Linked DNA regions of Homo sapiens. The gene in region 1 interacts genetically with each later gene. Each region holds a gene or a part of one and is shown in the gene's direction. Other genes may lie near its edges.

What was found.
Region 2: changes in ARPC2 (region 1) and TMEM165 are lethal when combined (synthetic lethality), as found in Homo sapiens cells (one study listed by BioGRID).

What each region holds. Positions count from the first base shown.
Region 1 is NC_000002.12:218,228,275-218,244,187, forward strand, and holds part of ARPC2 (actin-related protein 2/3 complex subunit 2), read left to right. Parts: intron 1-463; coding exon 464-576; intron 577-6,077; coding exon 6,078-6,123; intron 6,124-10,389; coding exon 10,390-10,576; intron 10,577-11,116; coding exon 11,117-11,210; intron 11,211-15,913. UniProt on the Homo sapiens protein: Actin-binding component of the Arp2/3 complex, a multiprotein complex that mediates actin polymerization upon stimulation by nucleation-promoting factor (NPF).
Region 2 is NC_000004.12:55,412,944-55,428,856, forward strand, and holds the end of TMEM165 (putative divalent cation/proton antiporter TMEM165 precursor), read left to right. Parts: intron 1-4,128; coding exon 4,129-4,304; intron 4,305-4,859; coding exon 4,860-5,042; intron 5,043-11,594; coding exon 11,595-11,700; intron 11,701-12,432; coding exon 12,433-12,509; 3' UTR 12,510-13,232; downstream 13,233-15,913. UniProt on the Homo sapiens protein: Putative divalent cation:proton antiporter that exchanges calcium or manganese ions for protons across the Golgi membrane.

The sequences.
Region 1 (15,913 bases):
TGCCTGTAGTCCCAGCTACTCGGGAGGCTGAGACAGGAGAATCTCTTGAACCTGGGAGGCAGAGGTTGCAGTGAGCCGAGACCACACCATTGCACTCCAGCCTGGGTGACAGAGTAAGACTCTATCTCAAAAAAAAAAAAATCGTTGAAGCCTCATGATGGAGATGAGAGTTCATTATACTGTTCGTTCTGCTTATATACATGTAAAATCCAATTATTTCAGCACCAAGCTGTGATTAAGGAAAGAATAGCTTTGTAATTTTAAGAAAGAGCAAAGAAACAAGTGCTCAGCAATTCTATCCCAGTGTTTCTGCTGATTTGTCACATGGATTTAAAATAAGTTCCATTTTACTTACATGCCTCCTTAAAAGTGGTCTTCCTTGTGGCCTACGGCAAGGTAGGCGCTTGGAGAGATTATTTCCCATTCCCAAATTGTTACGCAATCTTATTTGCTTTCCTCACAGATTTCGATGGGGTCCTCTATCATATTTCAAATCCTAATGGAGACAAAACAAAAGTGATGGTCAGTATTTCTTTGAAATTCTACAAGGAACTTCAGGCACATGGTGCTGATGAGGTAAGATCCACATCATTTTCCTTGGGACTCTTGTTTCCTCACCTTTCATTGGCAGTTTGCCATTCATGGAAGATCCATGGCACTAAATCACCCCCACATGACTACTTGCTCACCTAACTAGGGGCTCTTGACTTGATTCCTATAATGAATTGTGTTTCCTAGAAAAGGTTTTGACTCTTGCTTGCTTGCTTTAAAACAATGGAAACAAAAATAGCTTTAGTTCTCCAAAAACATAGCAAAGAATACTTTTCCTTGATCAGTACAAAAATAGCTGTTGCAAGAATTAGGTTCTGTTCTATTTTTGTAATATTATCAAGGCAGATAGATAACTTCTAGCTTGTTTAAATTTTATAGTCTCAGGTTCTCATTCTGGAGGCTTAGGCACAAATAGCTGTCTTTTGAAATTTTTAATTAAAGCTCTTTAAAGCTACCGTCTTTAAATATCTCTTCTTTATAACTACCATAGGGGAAATAAGAAAGATGTCCAGACATTATGAAACTTCGGTGGCCATGCCTTGTTCACTGGCTTCTTTAAATAGTTAAGTAGCAGGTTTGGTTCCTGTTGAACTGTATTTGCTCTGAGGAGAGCCATTTATGGAAGAAAGAAAATGCTATTACACCAGTTTGTGCACGCTGTGGTTGGGTCTCAAAGCAGGAAATATGACTCAGTTCCTGAATCAGTTTTCAAATTTCTTAGTTTTAACAAACTAGGTTCTCCTTAATCTGTTAAATGAAGATATAACCATAGCTGTTTCTTTCTGAAAAGTAGTAGCTTTTGAATTATTTAAAACTTATATAATAAAAGATGATTTGTAAAGGAATATGGTCAAAAGCTTGTTTAATTTTTTAGCATAAAAACTAAAATTAGTCTTAATACCAAGAGCCATTGGTTGCTTCCCTTAGTTATTCAAATGCAATTGATTTTCTCATAAGTTCAAAGAAAGAAGAAATATTTAGAGGATTTGGAATCCAGATTAGTTTACTGGAAAAAGAAAAGCTTCAGAAAGAAGACCTAGTGCTTTTATAAAGCTTATGAAGAATTGTTTTGTAAAAGATAGTGGCTGACACTTCTTTACCAGATAAAGAGTGAAAGAAAACAAATGGCTATTAAAGCAGCCCTGCCTCTTTTTTTTTTTTGAGGTGGAGTCTCACTCTGTTGCCCCAGGCTGTACTGCAGTGGCGCCAGCTCAGCTCACTGCAACCTCCAACTCCTGGGTTCAAGCAGTTCATCTGCCTCAGCCTCCTGAGTAGCTGGGATTACAGGCATGCACCGCTACACCTGGCTAATTTTTTGTACTTTTCATAGAGATGGCGTTTCACCACATTGGCCAGGCTGCTCTCAAACTTCTGACCTCAGGTGATCTGCCTGCCTCGACCTCCCACAGTGCTAAGATTGCAGGTGTGAGCCACCGTGCCCAGCCTTTTCTTTTTTTTTTCTTTTTTTTTTTTTTTTTTTTTTTTGACAAGGTCTTGTTCTGTCACCTAGGCTGGAGTGCAGTGGCACAATCACAGCCACTGCACCCCTCAACCTCCCAGGCTCAAGCAGTCCTCTCACCTCAGCCTCCTGAGTGTCTGGGACTACAGGCACGTGCCACCACACCTGGCTTATTTTTTGTTTGTTTGTTCTTTAGAGAGAGGAGGTTTCACTATGTTGCCCAGGCTAGTTTCAAACTCCTGGGCTCAAGCAGTCCTCCTTCCTGGGCCTCCCAAAGTGCTGGGATTATAGATGTGAGCCACCATGTCCAGCTGCATCGCTGCTTTGGATCAGCTATAACTACCTGAAAAGAAGTGTTAAAATATTTGAATAGACTTTTTTTAAATTGTGTAATCATTCTCCCCTAGACAGTCTTCACTAGGTGCAAGCCTGCACAGTGGCACACACCTGTAGTGCCAACTGTGTGTTGGGACTTCACACAGTTGGCTTGAGGGGTTCAAGTGGGGAGAGTTGCTGGAGCCCAGGAGTTCAAGTCCAGCCTGGACGACATAGTGAGATTCCACCTCAAAAAAAGGAAAAGATCTAAATGCAATAATAATAATCCTGGAAAGAAAGAGTTAAGCTAGATTTCTTAAATCTCCTTTCCATTCTGTGCTTTTCTTACGATGGAGCTCCAGAACACATTGCTATTCTTGTAGCTACCACAAGGGTCAAAGAACCAGCCCCACCCACTCAAGTGGGTGGAGTAAGTAACATTCATAGTGTTGGAGCAGAGTGCACAGTAAATGGCTCCCTGGGTTGGTTAAACAGTGACCAACCCATGATAACCACAGGAAGGTTATTACTTTGTCACAGGCCATTTTTAAAGGTGGAATGCCTCTGCTGCTAGAGTGGGAAGGTAATGGTGATGAGTGATAGGTTGCCTCCACCCATCTCCTGGTGTCATTGGGAGAGGGGGTACAAACTGAAAAGTGAATCATGGTTAAAAGTGCAAGTGAAGTGACAAGGAAGTGTTGGCTGGTTTTACCAAGGGGAGGGAGCAAAGCAGTTGAACATGATATAAATTTGGCTCTCAGTACCTCTTAGATCTCAGAATATTAACTTAGTAAGCTTGAAATTAAACTAAATCTTAGGGACTTAGGGATTTAAACTAAATCCCCACCACATCTGATTTCCCCTTCCTCGAAATACCAATAGTACGTGCAACACAGACTTGTAGCTCAGAGGTCGCATGCTGTTTCAAATTCTTGGGATATGCATGTTACTTTTTTTTAAAGAAGTGGTATATCAGACACCTGAAGGTCAAGTCTCTCTGTGCCACCAAGAAACTCTCGTGACCTTGAGCCCCTCCTCTCAATTCCTCTTCGGTAAAAGAAATACCTCACAGTGGCTGTGCAATCACCAAATAGGAACTACAGGTGGCATTATTTATCTTTTGCCCTTGTGTAAGAAAATGTAGTCTTGCAGGTTGAAAATTTCTTCCAGCTATAGGAAAATGGTTAAATAAATATGTGGAATATTAGGAAATTATTGTTCAGCCAGGCGTGGGGGCTCATTCCTGTAATCCCAGCACTTTTGGAGGCCAAGGCAGGAGCATCGCTTGAGGTCAAGAGTTCAAGCCCAGCCTGGGCAACGTAGTGAGACCCTGTCTTTGTATATAAATAAATAAGTAGGCCAGGCGCAGTGGCTCACGCCTGTAATCCCAGCACTTTGGGAGGCCAAGACAGGTGGATTGCTTGAGGTCAGGATTTCGAGCCCAGCCTGGGCAACATGGTGAAACCCCATCTCTACTAAAAAATATAAAAATTAGCTTGGTGTGGTGGTGGACACCTGTAATCCCAGCTACTAGGGAGGCTGAGGCAGGAGAATTGCTTGAACCCAGGAGGTGGAGGTTGCAATGAGCCGAGATCACGCCACTGCACTCCAGCCTGGGTGACAGAGTGAGACTCCGTCTCAAAAAAAAAGAATTAATTAAATTAAAATAAAATGTTTGTTTCTTAAGCCATGTCATTCTGGAAGCAGTTTCCACCAGGTGAAGCAGTCACGGTGACAGAGAAAAAAATAGGGAGTCTCAGTCTGTTTTTTGTTGCTATAACAGAATACCACAGACTGAATAATTTATGAAGAAAATATGTTATTTGACTCATGTTCTGGGGACTGGGAAGTCCAAGAGCGTGGCACCAGCATCTGGCAAGGGCCTTCGTGCCCTTTCCCGTCATCCTGTAGCAAAAGGCAGAAGGGCAAGAGAGGGCCAGACTCAATTTTTTTTTTTTTTTTTTTTTTTTTGAGACGGAGTCTTGCTCTGTCACCCGGGCTGGAGTGCACCCAGGCTGGAGTGCAGTGGCGCGATCTCACCTCACTGCAAGCTCTGCCTCCCGGGTTCACGCCATTCTCCCGCCTCAGCCTCCCAAGTAGCTGGTACTACAGGCGCCTGCCACCATGCCCAGCTAATTTTTTTGTTTTTGTATTTTTAGTAGACATGGGGTTTCACTGTGTTAGCCAGGATGGTCTCAATCTCCTGACCTCGTGATCACCCCGCCTCGGCCTCCCAAAGTGCTGGGATTACAGGCATGAGCCACCATACCTAGCCCAGACTCACTTTTTTAACAGCCCCTCTTGTGAATAACAAACCAACTTCCCCTATAACAACATGAATCCATTCATGAGGGCAGAGCCCTCATGGCCTAATCACCTATTACCGTCACAGTGGCAATTAAATTTCAACATGTGGCCAGGCATGGTGGCTCACTCCTGTAATCCCAGTACTTTGGGAGGCCAAGGTAGAAGGATCACTTGAGCCTAGAAGTTCAAGGCTGCAGTGAGCTATTGTATCAATGCACTGTAGCCTGGACTACAGAGTAAGACCCTGCTTCCAAAACAATAATAATAATCGTAAATTTTGGCTGGGTGTGGAAAAATTAGCCAGGCATGGTGGTGCATGCCTGTAGTCCTAGCTACTCAGGAGGCTGAGGCAGGAGAATCGCTTGAACCCAGGAGATGGAGGTTGCAGTGAGCTGAGATTGCACCACTGCATTCCAGCCTGGACAACAGAGTAAGACTCCGTCTCAAAAAAAAAAAATCATAATTTTTAACATGAGTTTTCGAAAGGACATTCAAACCATAGCAGAAGGTATAAAAGGGGTTCTTGGTTTTTTGGGTTTTTTTTGTTGTTGTTTTCATTTAATTCAAAAACCTGGAAAGTAGCCAGCAGTAGGTTCTGGTTTGGGGGGAAAGACATGGAGAGTATACAACCTTCTGGACACCAGTATTAATAGCTAGCTAAGATTTCATTATTGACTGTCCTTTGCCTTAAGAGCTGGCTATGCACTGAGTAATTTTAAAGCATACAAGATCAGCAGACAAACAGATCAGTTCCCGAGAGTCCTGGTTTTTTCTCTTTATTCACCTGGGTTAGTGGCTCAGTCTGTACTTAGGTTGATAACTAACAATCTGTTCTCTCACTTGGAATTTGGCATCCTTTTGCTCTCTTGAAAACAAAACATGATTAAGTACAATGTAGGATCTGGAGGAGAACAGAGAACATATTAAGGGTGTAGTCAAGTCCTAAAAAAGGATGAGCTTTGATTAAAGATTCTCGGCCAGGCATAGTGGCTCATGCCTATAATCCCAGCACTTTGGGAGGACGAGGCGGGTGGATCATCCAAGGTCAGTAGTTCAAGATCAGCCTGACCAACATGGAGAAACCCCATCTCAACTAAAAATACAAAAAAAAATTAGCCGGGCATGGTGGCGCATGCCTATAATCCCAGCTACTTGGGAGGCTCAGGCAGGAGAATCACTTGAACCCAGGAGGCGGAGGTTGTGGTGAGCCGAGATCGCGCCATTGCACTCTGTCCCAGGCATAAAAAGATACTCATCTCAGTTTTGTGACTTGTTTGGTGACTAAATCCACTTCCCCTCTGTCTCTACTTTCCCATCCACCAAATGAAAGTTAGGAAGAATGCCAACTTAGGAAGAGCTTGGCAAGTGCAGTACTTTAAAAATAATGAAATTATCATGGCCTTTGGATTAACGTATTTGGTTTTGTTTTGTTTTTATTTTCTAGTTATTAAAGAGGGTGTACGGGAGTTTCTTGGTAAATCCAGAATCAGGTATGTAGTCATGTGAGCAACTATGGAATGACATGGGAAGAGAGGTGTCCTTTTTATATTATGCTTTTTTTACCCAAAGGATTTCGTTTAAATATTATTACAAATATTTCTGCATGAGCCCATTCCTAATTTCAACTCCGTCCATAAAAATAGCTTTTAAGGGGCTTTGCTTTGTCCAATATGGAACACAGTAGAGGTACAAAATTGATGTGTGACATTTTTAACATTTACTTGATGGGGCCACATGACTCTTACTTAATCTTTCAGCCAGAGGGCCACATTTGTTTGTTCATGGTGATTAAAATGGCTTTGAAAAGAATGAGCAAACATTGATTCCCACCCTCGGCCCTTAGTAATTCTGCATACTACATATTTGGAGAAAGAAGAGGAATATTCACCACACTATTCTTGTGATTTCAAGTAATAAAAATCAGACCCTTTCTTAATCCAGTCTTCTAATAGGTTGTCTCAACATTCATGGCCAGAGGAATTGAAAGGCACCGTGTCATCCTTGAATAGAACAGCTATGTTATACTGCTTTAAAAAGGAGGTTTAAAGTGGAAAAACTGAACAGCCTTTTTACCCTGTGATTCAGTGGCATGTCTCAAATTCTGAGGCATTTAGCAGGACCCCAAAGTGAGAACCAGGTAGTAAGACCATTGGAACATAATATTTTTTACTCAACTATTACAACTTTGGTACCTTGATTAGAAAAGTCTTCTAAGAAGGAAGTTCTCTGTCACTCTTAACAGCAGTTACTTGTGCTAGCTTATTTCATCACCTCACCTATTTTTTCAGACAGTCTCATTCTGTTGCCCAGGCTGGAATGCAGTGGTACAGTCATAGCTCACTGCAGCCTCCTCCAAATCTTGGGCTCAAGCAATCCTCCCGCTTTAGCCTCTCCGGTAGCTGGGAACTACAGGCACATGCCACCATACCCAATTAATTTTTTTAATATTTTGTAGAAACAGAGTCTCACTGTCTGCTGCCCATACTGCCAAAACAGAGTAAGGAGGTCTCAAACTCCTAGCCTTGAGCAATCTACCCACCTCAGCCTCCGCCTCCCAGAGAGTTGGGATCACAGGCATGAGCCACCATACCCAGCACCTTTTTTTTTTTTAATCTCCAAATTGGCGGGATGAATGTGTCACAGAAATAAAAGCCAAGATAACACTGTAGGCTTTTGGCAAAATCAAGGTATTAAAAGAAAGAAACAAACAGATCTAGAACAGAAAAATCATGTCCAAAGTCTTGGGCATGCTTGTCACAGCCAACATCCTGACATGGAAAGTTTATGTTTCTGTCCCTGGGCCTCCTTCTACCTCCCACTAAATCATAGACATTGCCAGATTGCAGACCCTGTCTTCATAGAAGTGTGAAATGTAAAAGTGTGTGAAAGTAGTGTCTCAACCAGGTGCAGTGGCTCACACCTGTAATCCCAGCACTTTGGGGAGGCCAAGGTGAGTGAATTGCTTGAGCTCAGAAGTTCAGGACCAGCCTGGGCAGCATAATGAGATACCTGTCTCTATAAAAAATACAGAAATTAGCCAGGCATGGTGGCAGCCACCTGTAATACCAGGTACTCAGGTGGCTGAAGCACGAGAATCGCTTGAACCCAGGAGGCAGAGGTTGCAGTGAGCTGAGATTGCGCCACTGCCCTCTAGCCTAGGCGACAGAGCAAGATTCAGTCTCGAGAAAAAAAAAAAAAAGACCGTAGAGTCTCTCCTCCTCTTTTTTAATGGGTTTATCTAGGCACGTTTGGAAAACTCAGCAAGTTATACTAGATTTTTACTTCTCTTCATCCTCAGTATATTCTGTTCATCATGTTAGAAGCCTTACTTAAAGACAGACTTTACCTTAGCTATAGTTTTATTTGCTCTTATTTGGCTTCCTAAAACTAGCAAACCTCAGCTCTAAATCTTTTCTTTTTTAATCTAACCTTGTAATCTGTGTGCTTATTTGGTTTTCAAGTACCCAAAATAGAATGATGATTGATATTATTTAATACTGGAGTGCCTCTCCAGTATTAAATAAAATGTGCTAAGCATTATCTAGAGCAAAGATTTAGCCCATCCTCCCGAAGAGCCCATGCTCAACAAAAAACACAGACCTCAGCCGGGCGCGGTGGCTTATGCCTGTAATCCCAGCACTATCGGAGGCCAGGGCGGGCGGATCACCTGCATTCAGGAGTTCAAGACCAGCATGACCAACATGGAGAAACCCCGTCTCTACTAAAAGTACAAAATTAGCCAGGCCTGGTGGCGCATGCCTGTAATCCCAGCTGCCTAGGAGGCTGAGGCAGGAGAATCGCTTGAACCTGGGAGGCGGATGTTGTGGTGAGCCGAGATCATGCCATTGCACTCCAGCCTGGGCAATAAGAGTAAAACTCCATCTCAAAAAAAAAAAAATACAGATCTCAGGAATGCTTTTGGGAAAAAATGAAATAGTAATGAGGTTTCAGATACTTAGAAGTGTGAAAGCCATACAGTTCTGGTGAAGTTATTCCCGTCAGTTGCCTAGAATATAAAATGATCCTCAGTGATGTAGAAATATTCTTGCAAAAACATCTCTAGGCAGTTTGACACTTATTAATCATTTGATTCTATAATCAAGTGTTCCAGCCGGCTTCTGGGAATTCATAGTGGACATGCTGTAAAAAGGCAGGTCATCCAATGGTTTCAGTCCATGTTCTGCACCCGTATTGATGACCTGTCATGTTCCACACACTTTAAGTATTGAACATTCTTTTAATGCTCACAACATTCTCCCCTATCTCCGCACCCCCTGCCCTGCTCCTTTTTCTTTTTTTCTTTTTTTTTGAGACAGAATTTCACTCTTGTTGCTCAGGCTGGAGTGCCGTGGCGCGATCTCAGCTCATTACAACCTCCACCTCCCGGGTTCAAGCAATTCTCCTGCCTCAGCCTCCGGAGTACCTGGGACCACAGGCGTGTACCACCACACCCAGCTAATTTTGTATTTTTATTAGAGACGGGGTTTTGCCATATTGGCCAGGCAGGTCTCGAACTCCTGACCTCAGGTGATCCACCCACCTTGGCCTCCCAAAGTGCTGGGAATACAGGCTTGAGCCACTGTGCCCAGACCACCCTACCTGCCCCCCACCACCAATTTTTTTTTTTTTTTAACAGATGAGGAAATTAACAAGTCAGGCAATTTTTTTTGTTTTTGTTTTTTTTTTTTGGAGCTGGAGTCTCGCTCTGTTGTGCAGTGGTGCAATATCAGCTCGCTGTAACCTCCACCTCCTGGGTTCAAGCAATTCTCCTGCCTCAGCCTCCCAAGTAGCTAGGATTACAGGCGCCCGCCACCATGCCTGGCTAATATTTGTGATTTTAGTAGAGACAGGGTTTTGCCATGTTGGCCAGACTGCTCTCAAAACTCCTGACCTCAGGTGATCTGCCCACCTTGGCCTCCCAAAATGCTGGGATTACAGGTGTGAGCCACCACACCCAGCAGTTTTTTTAAGGTCACAAAATGACAAGACTAGGATTTGGACCCAGTTCTGTTCGACTCAAAATAGAGTGCCCTACACTTATGTGTCATGCTGCATTTGGCAAGTCACGTCACTTCTTTGAATCTCCTTTTCCCTCTGCAAAACAGTAACCTTATCTAGCCTGCAGACTTCAAAGGTGGTTATGGAGATCAAATGAAGTAAAATGTTTTAAAAATTGTACAATATATACCAATAAAAGCTATTGGGGAGGTATATGTATGAACAGGTAGTTGGTTTTTCTACCCTGCCACCTCATAAAGAGTTTGCAGTGGCACGTAGAAGGGTTTATCTTATTATCACAAAGCTACCCATTTGCTGGCCATACTGATACTTGGCACATTAAACTATCAGAGAAATATATGTGGCTCCTTTACAACTGTGTCTAGAAGGGTACATTTCCAATCAGAGTTCCCAGGTTCTGACTTTCTCCCATTACATATTTGTAATTAGTCATCTTTGATACTGATTCAAATTTTTGATTAACATTAATTATATATATTTACAAGAATCTTATAAAAATTAAGATTTTATTTCACCTCATTTTGCCCTGTGAGATAGATGGAAATAGACTATATTCTACCCAGGTTAAAAGTACAGATAATGAGACAAAATGTCAATAGAACCTGAAAAAAGATTTTTTTAGTTGCCTCTAGTCTCTGTTTACTTGGTATAGATAGTATGCTGCTTTTTTTTTTTTTTTTTTTTTTAAATGTAACTGCTGGGTTGTTTTTTGTTTCTTGTTTTTTCTTTCCCTCCAGGATACAATGTCTCTTTGCTATATGACCTTGAAAATCTTCCGGCATCCAAGGATTCCATTGTGCATCAAGCTGGCATGTTGAAGCGAAATTGTTTTGCCTCTGTCTTTGAAAAATACTTCCAATTCCAAGAAGAGGGCAAGGAAGGAGAGAACAGGGCAGTTATCCATTATAGGGATGATGAGACCATGTGAGTATAGAATTTGGTCCTGAAGCCTGGATATGGCTGCTACACCACCATGGCACTTACTGAAAGAAATATGGCTTGGTCAAACTTTCAGCTGTATTGCGTGAAAATGTTTTTCTCATAAAATGTCTTAAGCCAGGAAGTAGATGATAGGGCAGAAATCAGCCACTCCTCCTACTCTCCAGATACTGAGAGCTGACAGATGGTGGAAAGAGAATCCAGTGCTTTCCTTTAAGGCACCACTGTTCTGAGTCATGTTTAAGAGTATAGCCTGGATAATCAGCAGGCAGGGTGACCATAGGTCCATGTTATATTTACAAGTCAATAAAATCTACTTCTGATAATTTCCATCTGCTGCCTCTCTTAGGGCATTCATTTTGTGCACTGACTTTGTTGACCATAAATATCATCTCATTTGGCACACCTTTATATTATGATTTAAGAGATTTATGACTTTAGCCTTCTGATGTACTTGTAGATCAAGTTATTGACAAAACCCCATTCTGATTCTGTACTTATCCTCATGGATTTTGTTCCTCTCAGGTATGTTGAGTCTAAAAAGGACAGAGTCACAGTAGTCTTCAGCACAGTGTTTAAGGATGACGACGATGTGGTCATTGGAAAGGTGTTCATGCAGGTATGGAGCAGACATCTTGGGGGAAACCCATGCATGGCGACTTATACCTTTGCACCCAAACATACCATGAGCGTAGGAAAGAGATCTAGCAACTCTACTGATGTTAGAATTTTTTTTTTTTTTTTCGAGACGGAGTTTCTCTCTTGTTGCCCAGGCTGGAGTGCAATGGAGTGATCTCGGCTCACTGCAACCTCCGCCTCCCAGGTTCAAGCAATTCTCCTGCCTCAACCTCCTGAGTAGCTGGGATTGTAGGCATGCACCACCACACCCAGCTAATTTTGTATTTTTAGTAGAGACGGGGTTTCTCCATGTTGGTCAGGCTGGTCTCAAACTGCCGACCTCAGGTGATGCCCATCTCGGCCTCCCAAAGTGCTGGTATTACAGGCATGAGCCACCATGCCCAGCCTTGACGTTAGAATTTGTTGAAGATTTAATAGACAACTCCCACAAAACTCAGTGAATATTTTTTGTTGCTGCTGCTGTTGTTTTGAGGTGGAGTCTTGCTCTGTCGCCAGGCTGGAGTGTAGTGGCACGAACTCAGCTCACTGCAACCTCCGCTTCCTGGGTTCAAGCAATTTTCCTGCCTCAGCCTCCCAAGTAGCTGGGATTACAGGCACGCGCCACCACGCCCAGCTAATTTTTGTACTTTTAGTAGAGATGGGGTTTCACCGTGTTGGCCAGGATGGTCTCAATCTCCTGACCTCATGATCCGCCCGCCTCAGCCTCCCAAAGTGCTGGGATTGCAGGCATGAGCCACCGCGCCCAGCCTGATATTTTTTTTCTCAGTGGTTTAGTTTTGCAGGACAGAACTAAAGGGTAAGTTGAGAATTAAACATACTAACTATGAATGAATGTTATGCATCCTTCCTACTGTGGGGTCTTTGACCTAAAACTTTGTCAGGTTTCCTAACCCTAACCTCTTGTGTTTCCTCAGATTTCTAGTAAGGTGGCTGCTCTTGGTTTGGTCCTAAGGTCTTTTCAGAATGGACTGTATAGCCAATTATTTGGTAGTAGATAACGCATGAACAGGTAGAGTTGTTGAACTGACAGACTGAGCCTGAGTTTGGATGGGTCACCATAGAGTACTTCCCTCACAAGAAGCTCATCTTAAGAAGAGTCATGAGAGGCCAGGCGCGGTGGCTGACGCCTGTAATCCCAGCACTGTGGGAGGCCGAGGTGGGCGGATCACGAGGTCAAGAGGTCAAGACCATCCTGGCCAACATGGTGAAACCCCGTCTCTACTAAAAAAATACAAAAAATTAGCCGGGTGTGGTGGCAGGCACCTGTAATCCCAGCCACTTGGGAGGCTGAGGCAGGAGAATCTCTTGAACCTGGGAGGCAGAGGTTGCAGTGAGCCAAGATTGCACCATTGCACTCCAGCCTGGGCAAAAAGAGCGAAACTCCGACTCAAAAAAAAAGAGAGTCCTGAGAGTTAGCAGGGCATTTTGTAATTGGATTTTTGGTGTAGTTGCATTCAGGTCATTGTGTACCAGTCTGCTGGCCAGTTAGTTGCTGCCTCTAGGATGGACATGAGAGTTCATTGGTCAAGTGACATTCAGGCTGGTTTCTTCTGAGATGGCTCAGCATTCAAAATCTAGTACAATGGTAAAATTTTTTGAAAACGTTACTACCTTCATTCTGTTCCTTGGCAGGGTGGTAAAGATTTTTAAATTCTGAAGCAGAATCTCTTTTGCCAAATAGAGTTGAAAGACAGCTGTGCTTAACAGTAAAGATACTTTGCATAGCCTTCTAAGTGGCTAGGAAAATCTTCAAAAGTGATATTCTCAACTGCTCCATCCCTAGTGGCTTTTGTATTTTGGCTAATTAATCAGAAACTAGTTTGGGAGTCACTATACAGAAAAATTGGAATATTGACACTTCAGCATTTGCTAGTGCTGAACTTGATGAAGGAATATATAAATATACATGTATCTCTTGGGTCCTAAAAGTAAGCCTCTAGAGAGGCATTTCATGTGTTTTTATGCAGAATTGACAGGGGAATTAAATGCAGTAGCTCAGAAATTGGGCTAAATCCAGAGTAACAAAACTAATTTTAAAAGCTCTGAAGTATATATTTAGATTTGGCTGGTTTTTTACCAATCTTATTCCATTTTATTCCAGGAAACAACTTATTTTTATACTTTAAACAGATCTTATCTTGGAGAGTGTACCGGAGATTTGTTCCTTAGGAGAATTTTGTGTATTCTTTTTTGGCATATGATTTAAATGCCTCCTTCAGGGTACCTGTGGTAGGGCACTTACCTAAAAGGAAAGACAAAGCCTCTTTTGCATTTTGGCACTAACAGGATCTCTGGATAGTAACTGGCCTGGTGCAGTGCTAGCTAGACTCAGGAAGTCATCTGCCCTGCCACCCTTTCCAAATTCAGAGGCTTAGGTAATTTGTTGGAAATGACAATCGGAAACTGGACTTTTGCTGGATTTTCCCAAAAAATAAATAGAACTTTTTCCTAGGCCTGGAATTGTAAATTTCTCGGAAAAAGAATGAGGGACACCTGGCACAGAAAGTTGTACCCTGAGAACACTATTTGAAGTTCCTCATGGTCACTAGTCTACTTGTTGCCAGCCTTTGTGGCCTTTCCCTTCCAGCATGCACATCCAGCCTGATCAGAATTCAAGTCTTGCTTTTGTCATTTGGCAAGCAGGCTCTGAGGGATGCTTTCTACCTCTCAGAAAAAGACAGGAAGTGTATTCCTCCACACTAGTGGTATGGGCATATCAGCTGAGTACTGGAGAATGTCTGATAGAAGCCATCATTTCAATGCTTATTCCATGAAAAGCAATAGGACCAGTAATTATGCTTTTGGAGATTAGCTTATGGTGAACTAGAATTCTTTTCATATTCTAAGATTTTAAAGTCAAGTTAGTAACTAAATAACCAGGAAAAGTTAAGTGGAAACCACTGGTTTTTATATGTTCAGGGACAAAGACACAAGCACCTGCCTCTTAGGCAGTTGTAAAGATGTATTTTGAGGGCCCTTTCTGCCTGTTTGCATGTGTGGGTATGTCTGTAGGATATTTTCCTGAACTGGGAACACTGAGTCCAAGTCAGTAATTTTGGTAGACATTGCCAAACTCTTCTCCATCAGGGTAGTGGCATTTTATCATCTACCAGTGATGGAGAGGAGTGCCTGTTTTCCCAGAGTATGTTGTAAACTTGTGGATTTCTCCTGATCTGATAGGTTAAAGGTGGTATCTGTGTCTGCTTATGATGACATAAAAAGATGTTCTGAGGTCAGAACATCTTTTCTTAATGTTATAGACCATTTGATTTTCTTATGAAGTGTCTCTTTATGTCCTTTACCCATTATTCTGTAGGGTCATTGAGCTTCTCAATTTCTTTACATACTAGGGAGAGTAGCCTTTCATCTGTGATTAAGAGTTGAAATATTTTCTCCAGTTTGTCATTGGACCGTGTTTTGTGGGGTTTTTTCCACCATGTGGAAGTTTGTTTTTACATAATCAAATTAATCAGTCTTGCCTTTTATGGCTTCTAGATTTTGAGTTATAGGTAGAAAGCCCTTCCCTACTCGAAGGTTATAAAGAAATTTACCTGTTATTTTCTGAGTATTTTTACAGTTACATATTTTATACATGATTTTTTCTTATTTGTTGAGAGCTCCTCTTGTTGTATGGTATGAAAGAATGATCTTTTTTTCCTAAATGGCTATCCAGTGGTCCCAGTGGCAATTATTTCCTTTTTTACACCCCTGATTTAAGATGCTACTTTTATCATATGCTAAATGCCTTGTATATATTTGGATTTATTCCGAACTTCCTATGATAAATAGTACTTTGGAAGAGAGAAATAATCTGATGCTCAAAAGACATCCTAGCCAGAAGGAGAGTAAAAAGGCAATATTGCTTGATTACGTATAACAAAGATGCCAATGAAGATGGAGGGCTGTTTGGGTGTGTTTGTTTGTTTAAGCTTTATTTAGGAGAGAGAACTGAGGAGAAGCAAAGACATCAGAGAATCTAAAGAATAGTCCCAGTCAGGCACAGTGGCTCACGCCTGTAATCCCAGCACTTTGCGGGGCCTAGGCAGGTGGATCACTAGAGGCCAGTTTGAGACCAGCCTGGCCAACATGGTGAAACCCTGTTTCTACTTTAAAGGCCAAAAATTAGCCGGGAATGATGGCACACGCCTGTAATCTCAGCTACTCGTGAGGCTGACACATGAAAATCACTTGAACCTAGGAGGTGGAGGTTGCAGTGAGCCAAGATCACGCCACTGCACTCCAGCCTGGGTGACAGAGTGAGACCCTGTCTCAAAAAAGAAAGAAAGAATAGGCCCAAGCCAGAAACGTATCGTTGACCGAGCCTTAAATATGTTATTTTCCATATACAAAACTAATGAGTGCTAATAAGTCACCACTGGTTTATAAATACCCCATCTCATTGTGAATACCACATGTACCTGTGAATTAGAGCCTTGGAGACACTTAACAGACACAAGAAAATGCCAACAGTTACGTATCTGTTCTGTTTAATTCCTTAATACCGAAAAGTAAAACCAGTAAAAGTTAAAAAGCTTCTTAACCCCTTTGTAGAATAAAAAATGTTTTCTAGAGAAGGGCGATTTTAGAAGCTTTGCTCTAGAAATTTCCATTTGGGATAATCTTGACTCCTTCCCTTCCTTTTTGGATATTTTTCCTTCGGGGAACAAAATCTGTTCAAAAGGG
Region 2 (15,913 bases), on another chromosome or scaffold:
CTTAATGAGATGATAGGGCTATTTTTTATTTATTTATTTATTTATTTTTTTTTAGAGACTGAGTCTTGCTCTATCACTCAGGCTGGAGTGCAGTGGCATGATCATAGCTCACTGAGACCTGGAACTCCTGGGCTCAAGTGATCCTTCCACCTCAGCCTCCTGAGTAGCTGGGACCATAGGCTCATGCCACCATGCCCAGCTAAATTTTTTGTTTTTTGTAGAGACAGGGTCTGGTTGTGTTGCCCAGGCTGATCTTGAACTCCTGGGCTCAAGCTATCTTTCCACCTTAGCCTCCCAGTGTACTGATATTATAGGTATGTGTGCCTGCCCATCCTTTTACCTTGTATTTATTTTTTAAATTTTTATTTATTTATCTTTTTATTTATTTTGAGACAGACTCTTGCTCTGTCACCCAGGCCGGAGTGCAGTGGCATGATCCCGACTCACTTAAACCTCCATCTCCCAGGCTCAGGCGATTTTCCTGCCTCAGCCTCCCAAGTAGCTGAGACTACAGGCACATGCCATCACGCCTGGATACTTATTGTATGTTTTGGTAGAGATAGAGTTTTACCATGTTGGCCAGGCTGGTCTCAAACTCCTGACCTCAAATGATCGCCCGCCTTGGCCTCCCAAAGTGCTGCGATTACAGGCGTGAGCTACCACGCCTGGCCCCTGGCCCATCATTTTACAATTTTTAAACATTTTATAGAAATAATTTTAAGTTTACAAAGCAGCAAAAATAAAATAGTATGAAGAACACTTATATAACTTTTGCCTAGATTCACCTGTTGTTAACATTTTATCCCATTTGTTTTAGCATTTGTACTCTTATCTAAATAAAATTGTAAATGTGTATATATACACGTTGTTTACATACCTGTCTATAGTGTGTACATATACATACATTATTTATAAGCTATATAATGCACACATATAATCACAACATTTAATATATATTATGTATTGATACAGTACTTGAATCTGTCATCCATATTTTAATTTTGGATGACCTAATGTCCTTTCTTGTTTTTTGAAAGGACATAGGCTGGGCGCGGTGGCTCACGCCTGTGATCCCAGCACTTTGGGAGGCTGAGGCAGGCGGATCACGAGGTCAGGAGATCGAGGCCATCCTGGCTAACACGGTGAAACCCCGTCTCTACTAAAAAAATCCAAAAAACTAGCCAGGCTTGGTGGCGGGCATCTGTAGTCCTAGCTACTTGGGAGACTGAGGCAGGAGAATGGCGTCAACCCGGGAGGCAGAGCTTGTAGTGAGCCGAGATTGTGCCACTGCACTCCAGCCTGGGCGACAGAGTGAGACTCCGTCTCAAAAAAAAAAAAAAGGACATGAAATTTTTAAATATTTCACTTGTGTTATCAGTTTTATGTAATTTAAGTGGGTTTAACAGTCTTTATATTATTTTGCCTCAACTGTTAAATCATATGTGTTTATTTCTACATCTTCTCTTTTATAGCTTTATTTAGTTTTATAGATTTAACCACTTTTTTTTTATACTTTATGTTCTGGGATACATGTGCAGAACGTGCAGGTTTGTTACACAGGTATACATGTGCCATGGTGATTTGTTGCACTCATCAACCCGTCATCTAGGTTTTAAGCCCTGCATGCACTAGGTATTGGTCCTAATGCTCTCCCTCCCCTTGCCCCTGACCCCTCAATAATGTCCTTTATATCAGTGTTTTTCCCTTCGGTCTAGGTCAGATATTGCATTTAGTTATTTATTATCTTTTTAGTCTTTTAATCTGAAATATATCCATAGCCTTTTTTTAAAATGTTTTCTGACATCAACCTTTTTGGGAGAATTACAGTGTATCCCTCCTCCCTCCACCCCAGGAATGGGCTGTTCCCCATTTTTTGTTTGTCTGATGTTTCCTGATGGTTAGATTGAGGTAGGCATTCCTGACTAGAAAACTGCATAGGTGATACTTTGTCTCTCCAAGAATGTCTCATCTGGAAGCACATGGTGTCCATTTATTCCTCATTGGTGACATTAATTTTGGTGACCCAGTCAATATTTCTTTTCTGTGTTGTCTTCCCTTGCAACTACTATCTAATCTGTAGGGATATACTTAAAGACAGTACAAATACCCTCTTCCTCATCAAAATTTCTCCAAAGATTTTGCATCAATTGATGATTCTTGCATAATTAGATCTTTCATTGATGCTTGCAAAATGATGCTTTTAATTCTAATACTTCTTGCATATTCACCAGTGAGCCTTGGTATTCTACTGCCAGCAAGAGCTCTCCTTCCTTTCCCATTTGTTTGTCTTTTTACTAGCAGTACAAACTTATGGATTCCTTTTTTCAATGGTTTATAATTAATTATTTAACTATTTTGCTGCTTAAATTATCCGATGTTAGGCCAGTGAGAGCCTCTCCAAACTGTGTCCTGTGTCTTTGTGGCATGCTCCCATTTGATTTTGCTCCTCACTTTCTAGTACAACAAGATATTACAGGTTCATCATGCACCTGCTCTGCCCAGTCCTGGAACTGGCCATTTCTCGGCGGAGCTTTGAGGAGCTTTTTAGGGGAGAATGGTATTAGAACCCAAGATCTAGGTGCAAGGTTACTGAGCTCCTTGTTACTGAGATGTCTTTGCCTCTTGTCTTTTTCAGTGGACAGAGCTAGAAAATATATGCTTGTATCCTGTGTGTACACATACATATATACAAATATACATCCATACATATATACACACACAATAATTTAAATACAGATGTGCACACAAACATAGGTTTGCTGCATTTCTAACCATGATTTTAAGATCTTTTCAGTTTTGTAATGTAGGGAATTATTTACATACAGGTTATACATTTACAGGCAGATTTGTAAGTGTTGCACCCGTTTTATAAAAAGAGCTGGTGAATTAAAGAGTAATTGTATTTTTCTTTCTTTCTTTTTTTTTTTCTGAGATGGGATCTCACTCTGTTGCCCAAGCTGGGATGCAGTGGCATGATCGCAGCTCACTGCAGCTTTGACCTCCTGGGCTCAAGTGATCCTCCTATCTCAGCCCCTCAAGTAGGCTGGGACCAAGGCGTGTGTCACCCCGTCAGGCTAATTTTTGTATTTTTTTTGTAGAGACAGGATTTCGCCATGTTGACCAGTGGTCTCAAGCTCCTGGGCTCAAGTAATCCGCCCGACTCGGTCTCCCAAAGTGCTGGGATTACAGGCATGAGCCACCGTGCCTGGCCAGAGTAATTGTATTTATTATATGTATGGTCGTGTCCTCTGTTCCTTACATAGTTGTTTTTGTTTGTTTATGAGACAGGGTGTCACTATGTTTCCCAGGCTGGTTTTGAACTTCTAGGCTCAAGCAATCCTTCCACCGTGGCCTCCCAGAGTGCTGGGATTATGCCACTTTGCCCAGCCAAATTTTTAAGTTTTAATTACTGAATGAGTATTACTGATATACTTGTGTTTCACCATTAGGATTTGAGTTCTTGATATAGTTCCAAGCATCATTTTTTATATAACTTACACAGATGTCTTTCCTTATCAGTGGGAAAGAGTGGAACTGAATGTTTGAGCCTGTTGTAACATTATTTTAATATAATAAGAAATTTTTAGATTTTTTTCATAAAACGTACTTATTTTAAATAGTTACAAGGGAGCAGAGTTTAAATCTTGCTATGTGAGACTTTTGTCATGATTCTTCACTAGAAGTTTGTGATTTAAAGATTTGTGATGAAGAAATTCCACTATGCAAGTGGCATGGCTTCCCAGTTATAAAATCTCAGCTCTTGAGAGGGCCTCAGAGCTAACTTCTACCCCAGGTACTGTGCCTTGCACAACATAAGGCAAGCCAGCCTCTGACTGAACATGCCTGGAAAGGAGTTCAATATCTTACTTAACATCTCTCAGGAAGATGTGCCATCTTCAACTGGACCATTGGCTTCTGAGTAAGCTGTGTTAGGCCTGGGCTAGACCTAATGGTTTATTATTGGTGGAGAGAAAGATCTGGAAATACTTGAGGTTATTACATACTAGATTAGCTTCTAATGTGAACCATTTTTCTTTTAACAGTGATAAATTATTATTTCCGAAGTTAACTGTTCCCTTGGTCGTGATACACACTCGATTAACAAACATACTGTTGTATTTTTTCCAGTTTTGTTTGGCTATGCCACCACAGTCATCCCCAGGGTCTATACATACTATGTTTCAACTGTATTATTTGCCATTTTTGGCATTAGAATGCTTCGGGAAGGCTTAAAGATGAGCCCTGATGAGGGTCAAGAGGAACTGGAAGAAGTTCAAGCTGAATTAAAGAAGAAAGATGAAGAAGTAAGCCATGGCACTGTTGATCTGGACCAAAAAGGCACTCAACTAGGAATAAACACTCTACAGAGGTTTCTCAGTGGCCCCATCTGTGTGATATGCGGGGCTACACAAAAATAGCTTCTTTTGCTTTGTTCTGTTCTTATACCTGTCTGTGATCTGACTTGGGGTTGGTGTGAATGTAGTAGAGAAAGGAAGCTGACAGATGAATACTGAACACAGGTAATCAGTTTCCTTAATTAGGTTGATTATAAGCTCCTGAAAAGCAGGAACTGTATTTTATAATTTTACCTGTTTCTCCCGTGGTGTCTAGGATAGTAAGTGAGCAGAGCAGTAAATACTGTTTGGTTTGTTCAGCTGAGGAGAAACGGAAGAATTGAGACTATAGCATTTGTTGCTGTGTGAGACCAGTGGTTCAGAGGGGAGGTTTGGGGGTCACATAAATGTAGTTTTTTTGGAGCATATTTCATAGAATTTAAACACTTAGAAAAGTCAAGTGATTTGTGTGCTATTTTGATTTGCTTCCTGTGCTTACTTTCATTTGTTTATTATTTATTTTAGTTTCAACGAACCAAACTTTTAAATGGACCGGGAGATGTTGAAACGGGTACAAGCATAACAGTACCTCAGAAAAAGTGGTTGCATTTTATTTCACCCATTTTTGTTCAAGCTCTTACATTAACATTCTTAGCAGAATGGGGTGATCGCTCTCAACTAACTACAATTGTATTGGCAGCTAGAGAGGTGAGTGATATTTGAGAGGAGACTGTTTAAAATGAAACGTAATTATTATTACTTTGTTCCAGAAAACACTGGACACACTGAAGTGGGCCACAGCATTCCTTCATATGCAAGACTGTTTTACATCTGATAATTCAGCTGCTCTCTAAAATTGGCCTTCTCCCAGTTCCTGCTACCTGCAGGTGAAATTCTTGTAACCAAGCTCAGTTGGGCTCTTTTTACTCATCCTTTTCCCTTTGGTTTTGCCAAAATGATGCCGTGGTACTTGTCATCTTAGCTTGGTTTTCTTATCATAGAACTTTCTTTTTTATAGTTGTTGAGAATATAAATCAGTATAATATTATTGAAGGCCATTTTGGTGTTTAATACCTAAAGCCTTAAAAATGTGTAGCTAGCCGGGCTTGGTGGTATGCACCTGTAGTCCCAGCTACTCAGGAGGGTTGAGGTGGGAGGATTGCTTGAGCCTGGGAGGTTGAGGCTCCAGTGAGCTGTGTTCGCGCCACTGCACTCCAGCCTTGGTGACAGGGAGACCCAGTCTGAAAAAAAAAAAAAAGTGTATAGCTTTTCGTTCATGTGTTACACTAAAGAAATTGACTGTTGCACAGACTACTTATAATTATTGTAACTTAGTAAAAATTTAGAAACAGCCTAATAATCCAGCAGAAAATTGGTTCAGCTGTTTACAAATCTCTGTGTAGCTCTTAGAATATTCACTCTTCAACATCATTTCAGTGACATGGAAAAATTTTAAAAGGAGGTTTACTTTTAAAATATAAAAAGAAGGCCGGGTGCCGTCCCTCACGCCTGTAATCCCAGCACTTTAGGAGGCCAAGGTGGGCGGATCACCTGAGGTCAGGAGTTTGAGACCAGCCTGACCAGCATGGAGAAACCCCTACTACTAAAAATACAAAAATTAGCCGGGCAAGGTGGCTCATGCCTGTAATCTTAGCTACTCAGGAGACTGAGGCAGGAGAATTGATTGAACCGGGGAGGCAGAGGTTGCAGTGAGCCTAGATTGCACCACTGCACTCCAGCCTGGGCAGCAGAGTGAGATGCTATCTCAAAAAATTAAATAAATAATATATAAAAAGAACAAAAAAGACTTAAGGAAATAAAAACATTATTTTTATTTCAGTGCTTATCTATCGTTGCGTACTGCTATTATGGGTAATTTATTTATTTACTTTTTGGTAGGGGTGGGGTCTCACCATGTTGTCCAGCCAGTTTTGAACCCCTGGCCTGAAACTTCCTGCCTCAGCCTCGCAAATAATCCTTCTGGGATTATAGGCGAGAGTCACTGCTCTGGCCTAGGTGACTTGTTTGTTTCTGTGTAGGAACTTTTTGTTCAAAAAGTCTTAGCCCAAGAATCCTAAGTTCTGGAGTGGGAAGCTAGAGACCTCAGCTCATCTTGTAGCTTTTACTCTTCAGATGAAGAACCTGACCCCCAGAGAGATCGGGTGACTTGTGTGAGGGAGTAAGCTGGCTGGCTGTGGCCTTCTTCACAGTTGTTCAATGCCACTTATTTAAAACATGCCCATTGGTTTTTTATTTTTTAATTTTTCTTTTGATGGGAATAGCAAGGTTTTATATGAGGCGCCTGTCATTGTTCACACAGATTTATTAAGATTTCATGTGGAGACGGTTGTGGAATGGAATACTGCTGCCACTTTTCAACCTCTTTTTCATCTTAACTGATACTATTTCTTATCTGTGTTTATATCAGATTCTCTTTTTATAAGAGTAAAATTGTTTCTAATTCCTTGGAACTATCATAAAAGAACAAGTTCTTTAATTATAGGCTGTGGTTTAAAATACAAGACAGTTGAAGGCCAGGACTAAGATAGATGGGAAAGGCTATTTTGTCAGGGAAGCCTCAAAAATGCTGTATTTTGGGGAAAAAAAATGGAACTCTGATTTTCATTTGATTCTCATAAAACAAACTTTCTTTAAAAATATCACTTTAATTAGCTGGGCGTGGTAGCGGGTGCCTGTAATCCTAGCTGCTAGAGAGGCTGAGGCAGGAGAATCACTTGAAACCGGGAGGCAGAGGTTGCAGTGAGCCGAGATGGTGCCACTGCTCTCCAGCCTAGGTGACAGAGTGAGACACTATCTTAAGAAAAAAAAATATATATATATATACATATATATTTATTTATTTATTTATTTTATTTATTTATTTAATGGCTGTACCCTATATTCTTCTTGATTTCTAGCCTTTTATTGGCTCTCAGATTGCCAGAGTTGGGACTCAATAGTAAGTAACCATTTTGTTGAGGTGGTAGTGATTCTACCAGGGTGAGTTATCATGACAGCAGAATCACTGCGTTTTTCTCTCTACTCTGTGGCATAGACTCTATGCCATAGAGTGACGTGTGAAAGGCTTGAGGCTCCCTACCTACGAGACACCCTGGTCCATTCTAGCAGTATGGCACGTGCTGACTGGGTTTTGAGTCTCTTGCTGTAAAATCACATTACTGCACTTCCCTGCATTTTCTCATCCAAAAATGGGGATTACCTGCTTTGTGGATCGGTTTGCAGATGAAATAACACACGCAGGGTATCTAGCATGGTCCCCCACATGGCACATTCAGTGTTAGCCACACTTCCATACTAACTGCCCTGCGGGGATATTTAATGAGCTCTTAAATGGCAGAAATGTTGTGTCTTTTCCTGTTCCCTTAGTATTCCTATTTTTGTTGGTAATTTTTCTTATGAACCATGCAGTTGTCTAGTTCAGGCCATTTTAGTATGCAGTTTTATCTTTGCTTCCAACATGATTTAATGTTCCCAAATTGGATTTCACATAATCCTAGTGTCCTTTGAGACTTGAATTGGTTCTAGGCCAAAAAAGGGTGAGGGGGAAGGAAGAAATTCAGAGTCAAATTTGGCAAATAATATATCCCTGTCGTTTTGTTTTTTCTTTTTAAGACTTGGGCCAGGTGTGGTGGCTCACGCGTTTAATCCCAGCACTTTGGGAGGCTGAGGCAGGCAAATCACCTGAGGTCAGGAGCTCGAGACCAGCCTGGCCAACATGGTGAAAAATACAAAAATTATCCAGGCATGGTGGCCCACGCCTGTAGTCCCAGCTACTCGGGAGGCTGAGACAGGAGAATCTCTTGAACCCGGGTGAGCCGAGATCGCGCCACTGCACTCCACTCTGGTCGACAGAGCTAGATTCCATCTCAAAAAAAAAAAAAAAAAAAAAAGACGACTCAGTATACAAATAAAGACTGGAAAGTCCTATATTAAAGGAACTAGTTAAATACTAGTTTATTTTACTTAATCTAGTGAATTTTTAAATATTTTCTTTCTTTCTTTTTTTTTTTTTTTTTTTTTGAGACAGGGTCTGGCTCTGTCAACCAGGCTGGAGTGCAGTGGCACAATCTCAGCTCACCTCAACCTCCACCTCCTGGGCTCAAGCCATCCTCCCACCTCAGCCTTCTGAGTCTGGGACTACAGGTTCCCACCACCATGCCTGGCTAATTTTGTATTTTTTGTAGAGACAGGGTTTTGCCATGTTGCAGAGGCTGGTCTCGAACTCCTGAGTTCATGCAATCTGACCACCTTGGCCTCCCAAAGTGCTGAGATTACGCCCGGCCTAAATATTACTTTCAAATAGAACCATCTTCATGGGTAGCAGTTTATAATACACAAGTAGAATTTGGGAAATGTAGTCCCAGTCTTCCATTCTTCACAGTGGATGCTTCAGCCAGTTTCCTGTCTCTGCACACACACTGCCCGACAGCGGGCTTTCCCTTCTCCTTCAGAGCAGTAGCAGTTCCCTTTCTTCATTCCCACCCATCACAGTGGCAGCCCCCTCTGCCCTCCTGTATTCTGAATCCCACCCTTATAATATGCTTAGATTTTGCCTTTCTCCCAGCCGTTTTGTGAGCATTGTTCGTGTGTACCAATTTTTTCTCATCCTTTAAAAAGAAAAAAAAAAAGCCCCTTTTCTCAATTGTACATCGCAAATCCAACTCTTGCCCTCCTGCAGTGTCAGAGGACTTGGCTGTGATGGGAATAAGCCTTGGCTCTGTTCTCCTTGCATACTTAGCCCATGGGAACCCAGTTTCTGGCCTCACCAGGAATGTTGTTGTGCTTTGAGCTCCCTGTGGCCTTGCATGATGCCTCCGTTGGTCCTTACAGGAGGTGATTGGCTGGCCACCTCACTTGCTTTCTCCTGTGGACCCTTCTTTCTCTGTCCTTCCTTGAATGCTGCCTTTGTCCCTCATGATTATGCTATCAACATTCTTCTCTTTCTGCTTTCTCTGTAACAGGTTTATTGACTCTTTTTTTTGAGAGTCTTGCTCTGTCACCCAGGCTGGAGTACAGTGGCACAATCTTGGCTTGCTGCAACCTCTGCTTCCTGGGTCCAAGCGATTCTTCTGCCTCAGCCTCCCGAGTAGCTAGGATTAGAGACATGTGCCACCAAGTCTGGCTAGTTTTTGTATTTTTAGTAAAGATGGGGTTTCACCATGTTGTCCAGGTTGGTCTCAAACTCCCAACCTCAGGTGATCTGCCTGCCTCGGCCTCCCAAAGTGGTGAGATTACATGTGTGAACCATCCACCCACCCTGATTCAACTGACTCTTAACTTTAAAAATCACATTGGTCTTACCATACATAGTTCATCAATTGTGGGAGAGAAACTTGGGTGTCATGCTTTATTTATTTATTTTTTTTTTGAGATGGAGTCTCACTCTGTCACCCAGGGTGGAGTGCAGTGGCACGATCTCAGCTCACTGCAACCTCAGCCTCCTGGATTCAAGCCAATTCTCCTGCCTCAGCCTGCCCAGTAGTTGGGACTACAGGTGCCTGCCACCACACCCGGCTAATTTTTTGTATTTTTAGTAGAGACAGCATTTCACCATGTTTCAGTCTCCTGACCTCGTGATCCACCCTCCTCGGCCTCCCAAAGTGCTGGCATTACAGGCGTGAGCCACTGCACCCAGCCTATTTTTCTTTTTTTAATAAGAGATGGAGTCTTGCTTTGTCACCCAGGATGGAATTTGTAGCATAGTAGTGTGATCATAACTCACTGTAGCTTCAAACTCAGGCTCAAGTGATCCTCTCACCTCAGCCTCCTGAATAGCTGGAACTACATGCATGAACCACTGCACCATTATTTTATTTTTAAGAGACGGGATCTCGCTGTACTGCTCAGGCTAGCCTTGAACTCCTGGCCTCAAGTGATCCTTCTGCCTTAGCCTCCTGAGTGGCTGGCTCCACTCTGCTTGGCTCTGATATTTTTCCATAAAGCCTATCATTCATTTATCATGGAGGTATGTTAATTTTGCCTTCTTAATTTCTCTCAAATTCACCTGCTCTTTGCCTACAGTCATCTGCCCCGATCTGGGGCAACGCAGTTTCTTCCCAGGGCTGTTGCCATAGCATCGCAGTGGATCACCCTTCCTTCAGTCTTGTTCCCCTCTGGTTCTTTCTCTCCACTAGACTTTAAAAAATTTTTGAGATAGGGTCTTGCTCTGTTGCCCAGGATGGAGAACAATCATAGCTCACTGCAGCCACGACCTCCTGGGCTCAAATGATCCTCCCACCTCAGCCTCCCGAGTAGCTGGGACCACTTGTGCTTGCTAGGATGCCTGGCTAATTTTTAATTTTTTTGTAGAGACAAGGTCTCACTGTGTTGCCTAGGCTAGTCTCAAACTGCCAGGCTCAAGCAATCCTCTTGCTTCAGCCTCCCAAAGTGTTGGGATTACAGGCATGAGCCACTGCACCTGGCCTAGCGGATTTCTGAAGCATTAATCTGTTCTGTTACTTTCCAGCTAAAAACCAACAAGTGTCTGAGGACACAGTTTAAACTCCAAGATGATAGGGTCCTCCCTCACCTGGACTCCCACCTACCCTCATGACCTCCTTTTGTGAAATGCTGAAGGGCTCTGCAGCTGGTTGTCTGGTACTGCTGGCCTTTGCTTTCTATTTAGCATGTTCCTTCTCCCACAAAACAAAATCACATTCTCACTATGCCCTGTTCATTCTTCAGGACTATCTTCTGGGAAACTTTTACTACATACCCCTCTCCCCCTAATCTGAGTGTCTGCTTTGCTCAGGTAACATGTGTTCACTGGATAAATCCTTGATTCCTGGCACTGAGGCAGGGTTTCTGTTCCCAGGAAGCAGAGGCATACTATTCTGTGAAGGATTGACTGAGTTTCTCCTAATACCAAGCAGTATCTGAGGGAACAGATGTCTAGCTTAAAATCCTCCCTAGCACTTGTCATAGCAGTGCTACGTATTGCCTGTGAAGGAAGTTTAATAACTGCTGAAAGGTTCGATTAGCTTTATTTCATCAGGATTTGTTTGACTTTACAAATTGATTTGGGTTATTTCAACTTTTAGGTCTAGTCTTAAGTATAACTGGTACATATTCCTTCAAGCAGCCATTACACCTCTCATAAATTTATTATACACCTGCATTTTTATAACTATTATGCTTTTTAATTGTTGGCCACCATTTTTAGTGCTTCTGAATTGTTATGGTTCTCAAGCAGCAGTTGTCACCTTGGTTTTGAATTAATGCTGTGACGCTTGCTTCCAGGACCCCTATGGTGTAGCCGTGGGTGGAACTGTGGGGCACTGCCTGTGCACGGGATTGGCAGTAATTGGAGGAAGAATGATAGCACAGAAAATCTCTGTCAGAACTGGTAAGTCTTGAAAATTACAAATCAGATAACATTTTAGAATCACTGAGAGATTAAAGGGTGTTAGCTTTGATTATTTAAATTTCTGCTGCTGAAGTATACTTGGTTTTTCTAATTACCTACCATCTCTTATAGAGGTATTAATCCTGGTATTGCAAATACGGACTTTTTTCACCTGTGTAGAAGTTAGCAAAATACAAAGTCATTTTTATCGAATTCATAGTAGCTTCTTGTTAACATATTATCTTAGTAAAACAATTGTCATTTGGAAGTATGAGAAGTTTTTGGCTCTAAAAATGTGTCTTACAAGACTGGAATCATGTGGAGACCATATGTACTGATTCTGCTGAATATGTCCTGTGAAGCCACAGTTAGGTCTAGAGATGGAAGAATCGTCTCTTTGCTAGTCAGAAGACCTGAACATTTTCTTTTATAACTGGATTTTAAGATGAGTTATAGTTCTACTGTTGCTTGCCAGCACTGTCTGGATTTAATACAATCCTGTCATTTCTCAAAACAGTGCTGGAGAAAACCTGATTCTTAGTGTTCACAGTCAAGCATGTTAAGTATTGTTCCTTGTTATGTAAAAGGGGTTGAAGTGATTCTAATTTGTTTTCAAGGTTAGTTTAATAGATTGGAAGAATAATTGGCCGCCTCATCGGCTCCCTTTTCATTTTGTACAGTATCAAGGTATAGGAATTTTACTGTATTTGACTTTTTTTCTCTCTCTTCCAGTGACAATCATAGGAGGCATCGTTTTTTTGGCGTTTGCATTTTCTGCACTATTTATAAGCCCTGATTCTGGTTTTTAACAAGCTGTTTGTTCATCTATATTTAGTTTAAAATAGGTAGTATTATCTTTCTGTACATAGTGTACATTACAACTAAAAGTGATGGAAAAATACTGTATTTTGTAGCACTGATTTTGTGAGTTTGACCCATTATTATGTCTGAGATATAATCATTGATTCTATTTGTAACAAGGAGTTTTAAAAGAAACCTGACTTCTAAGTGTGGGTTTTTCTTCTCTCCAACATAATTATGTTAATATGGTCCTCATTTTTCTTTTGGTGCAGAACCGTTGTGCAGTGGGGTCTACCATGCAATTTTCTTTCAGCACTGACCCCTTTTTAAGGAATACAAATTTTCTCCTTCATCACTTAGGTGTTTTAAGATGTTTACCTTAAAGTTTTTCTTGGGGAAAGAATGAATTAATTTCTATTTCTTAAAACATTTCCCTGAGCCAGTAAACAGTAGTTTAATCATTGGTCTTTTCAAAACTAGGTGTTTAAAAAAAGAGACATATATGATATTGCTGTTATATCAATAACATGGCACAACAAGAACTGTCTGCCAGGTCATTCTTCCTCTTTTTTTTTTAATTGGGTAGGACACCCAATATAAAAACAGTCAATATTTGACAATGTGGAATTACCAAATTAAAAGAGAATACTATGAATGTATTCATATTTTTTCTATATTGAATAAACAATGTAACATAGATAACAATATAAATAAAAGTGGTATGACCAGTGCTTGTTTTTCCTTGTGTGTCATATAAAATTATCAGTATTGATAGGCCAATTTCTAAAGCTGATGTAAAAACACTAACATATTAAATATTTGAGATATGCCTAAAGTAGCTAAACAGGAGCCAGGCATTGTTCGAAAGCATTGTCACCCTTACAGTTCTGTGAGGTAGTAGGTACTAATATAAGGTTAAAAAAGAAAAAAACTAACTCACCCAAGGTTACATGGTAGAGTCACACCAGGCGGTTTAATTCCAGAGCCTAATGTCATTCATTATGCTAAGACTACCTCATTTTTTCATGGCAACTTCAGTCGTCACCCTCGTTTGAGTATATTTTGATTTGACTACTACTTCACCCAAGTAGCATAACAGCTGCTTTCTCTCAGCCTTTTATATTCTAGAATCATATGCAGTAACATTCCCATTAATAGCCTCACTAAATTGAAGGACAATTCTACAGAAACATCCATGTTATTTGTGTGAGGTATAATAGGAGACCCAGAGCAATTCAGGTTTATGAGCTACTACAAAGGTCCACAATGTAGTCTGCAATTTGAAGAGATTGTGAAAGAACCCAGTTAATCATCCAGCACTGTAGGATGCAGCAATTGTCCTACATGGTAACTCTGTGAGGAAGATGATAGCTACTACTGTGGAGATCTTAAGAGGAGTTTTCAGCTTAAATGCCAAGTTAGAAGTAGCACATGTTGGTAAAAAAGGTCATATTTGTAGTTTTCTGCTATAGGAAGTATCAAAGGGTAGAAAACAATGTCTGTGGATTAAGATAAACTCTGTGGTTAGACAGTCTATATTGCCTTAGATTGTTTGTTTGTTATAAAGAAAGAGTGAGGAATTCTCACTAGTATTTTTTTTTTTTTTTTTGAGAGAGTCTCACTCTGTCGCCCAGGCTGGAGTGCAGTGGTGTGATCTTGGCTCACTGCAACCTCCACCGCCCGGGTTCAAGCAGTTCTCCTGCCTCAGCCTCCCGAGTAGCTGGGATTACAGGCGTGCACTACCACGCCTGGCTAATTTTTTGTATTTTTAGTAGAGATGATGGAGTTTCGCCATGCTGGCCAGGCTGGTCTCGAACTCCTGACCTTATGATCCGCCCACCTCAGCCTCCCAAAGCGCTGGGATTACAGGCGTGAGCCACCATGCTTGGCCTACTAATACGTTTTGTTTGTTTGGAGACAATCTATCTCACTCTGTCACCTGGGCTGGAATGCAGTGGCGCAATCTCGGCTCACTGCAACCTCTGCCTCCTGAGTTCAAGCAGTTCTCCTGCCTCAGCCTCCCAAGTTGCAGGGATTATAGGTGCCCGCCACCACGCCTGGCTAATTTTTTTGTATTTTCAGTAGAGACAGGGTTTTACCATGTTGGCCAGGCTGGTCTTGAACTCATGACCTTAGGTGATCCACCCACCTCAGCCTCCCAAAGTGCTAGGATTACAGGCGTGAGCCACCGCACCCAACCGTTTTTTCTAATAACAACAGAAAAGACAATTCCTCGTAGGGAGTAGCTGGCACCATCATCGTGTAACCTCAGTTCAGGTAGCTTGGTCCCATTACTAGCTTCATATGCGAATAAGAACAGCATCGCATTCTGAGGCACCACAATCTTGTAGCAGGACATAATTCCTCTGAGAATTTTTGGTAAGTCAGACCTAAGCTATAAGGTAAAAATCGCTACTGCAATAGGCTCCATTGTTGAATAAAAGAAAGGGAAATGTCATTGATAGTGATCTTAAAATATTTAATAGTCTTTCTTTAAAATCCAAAATGTGATTCTTACAAGTTATGTGCCACATGAAGCAGGTGTTATTTTTTGAGAAATGCAGGTGATAACTGAAAAACATAGCACTGAGGTATTTTTTATTTTTAAAATTGAAGGAAACAAAGTCTGGATCTAATTATTTTTACATTTACAAAAACTGCTACTGCTTGGCTCTTTTGCTATAAGTTTAGGTTCTGAATACATGACAAGAGTATGGGAAAGAGCAGAATAATAGTACACGCAGTTTTAAAAGCTATGCACATCATAACCTGGAATAATGATTACACAGCAAGAGGCCTGAGTGGAGGTAGGCTAACAACACATTTTGACTTTCTCCTCAAAGGATAGCTTTGAAAAACAAGTGTAACCAATTGTTACACCAAATTAAAATGGCAATATTAAATCGGTAACAAAACGATCCACATTTTATACAATATTGTATTTCCAAACATACATAGGTCATGAAAATCAGAGAACCTAATATAGCACCGTTGAAACCATTCATTATCCTTCATGTGTGTATGCAATTCAGAATTTCGGCAGAAGACAACAAATGGAAAATGCCTTTCGTTTCTATAAATCATTTTGGATTTCAATTAAATCTTTGCCTTAGTAAAGGGTATTCTTATCTCAAGATCAATTAGCCGTTTTTAGCTCCACCGTTTTGGAAGTAAAAATGATGAGCTACATCTACTTTTTAATTTAAAACCAAGAACCAAGCAGTAAGGACAGCAATGTCAAGAATATCACATTGAGAACCACACAGAACATTATAAAGAATTTGGTGCATGTTTTAACAACTACCAACTGATGTTAACAATGAAAAATTTACAAAGGTAAAACTTTTTTTTTTTTTTTGCACTGACTGGTTTCAATACAGCACTGAATTTAACTCATCTTTGGGCTTCAATC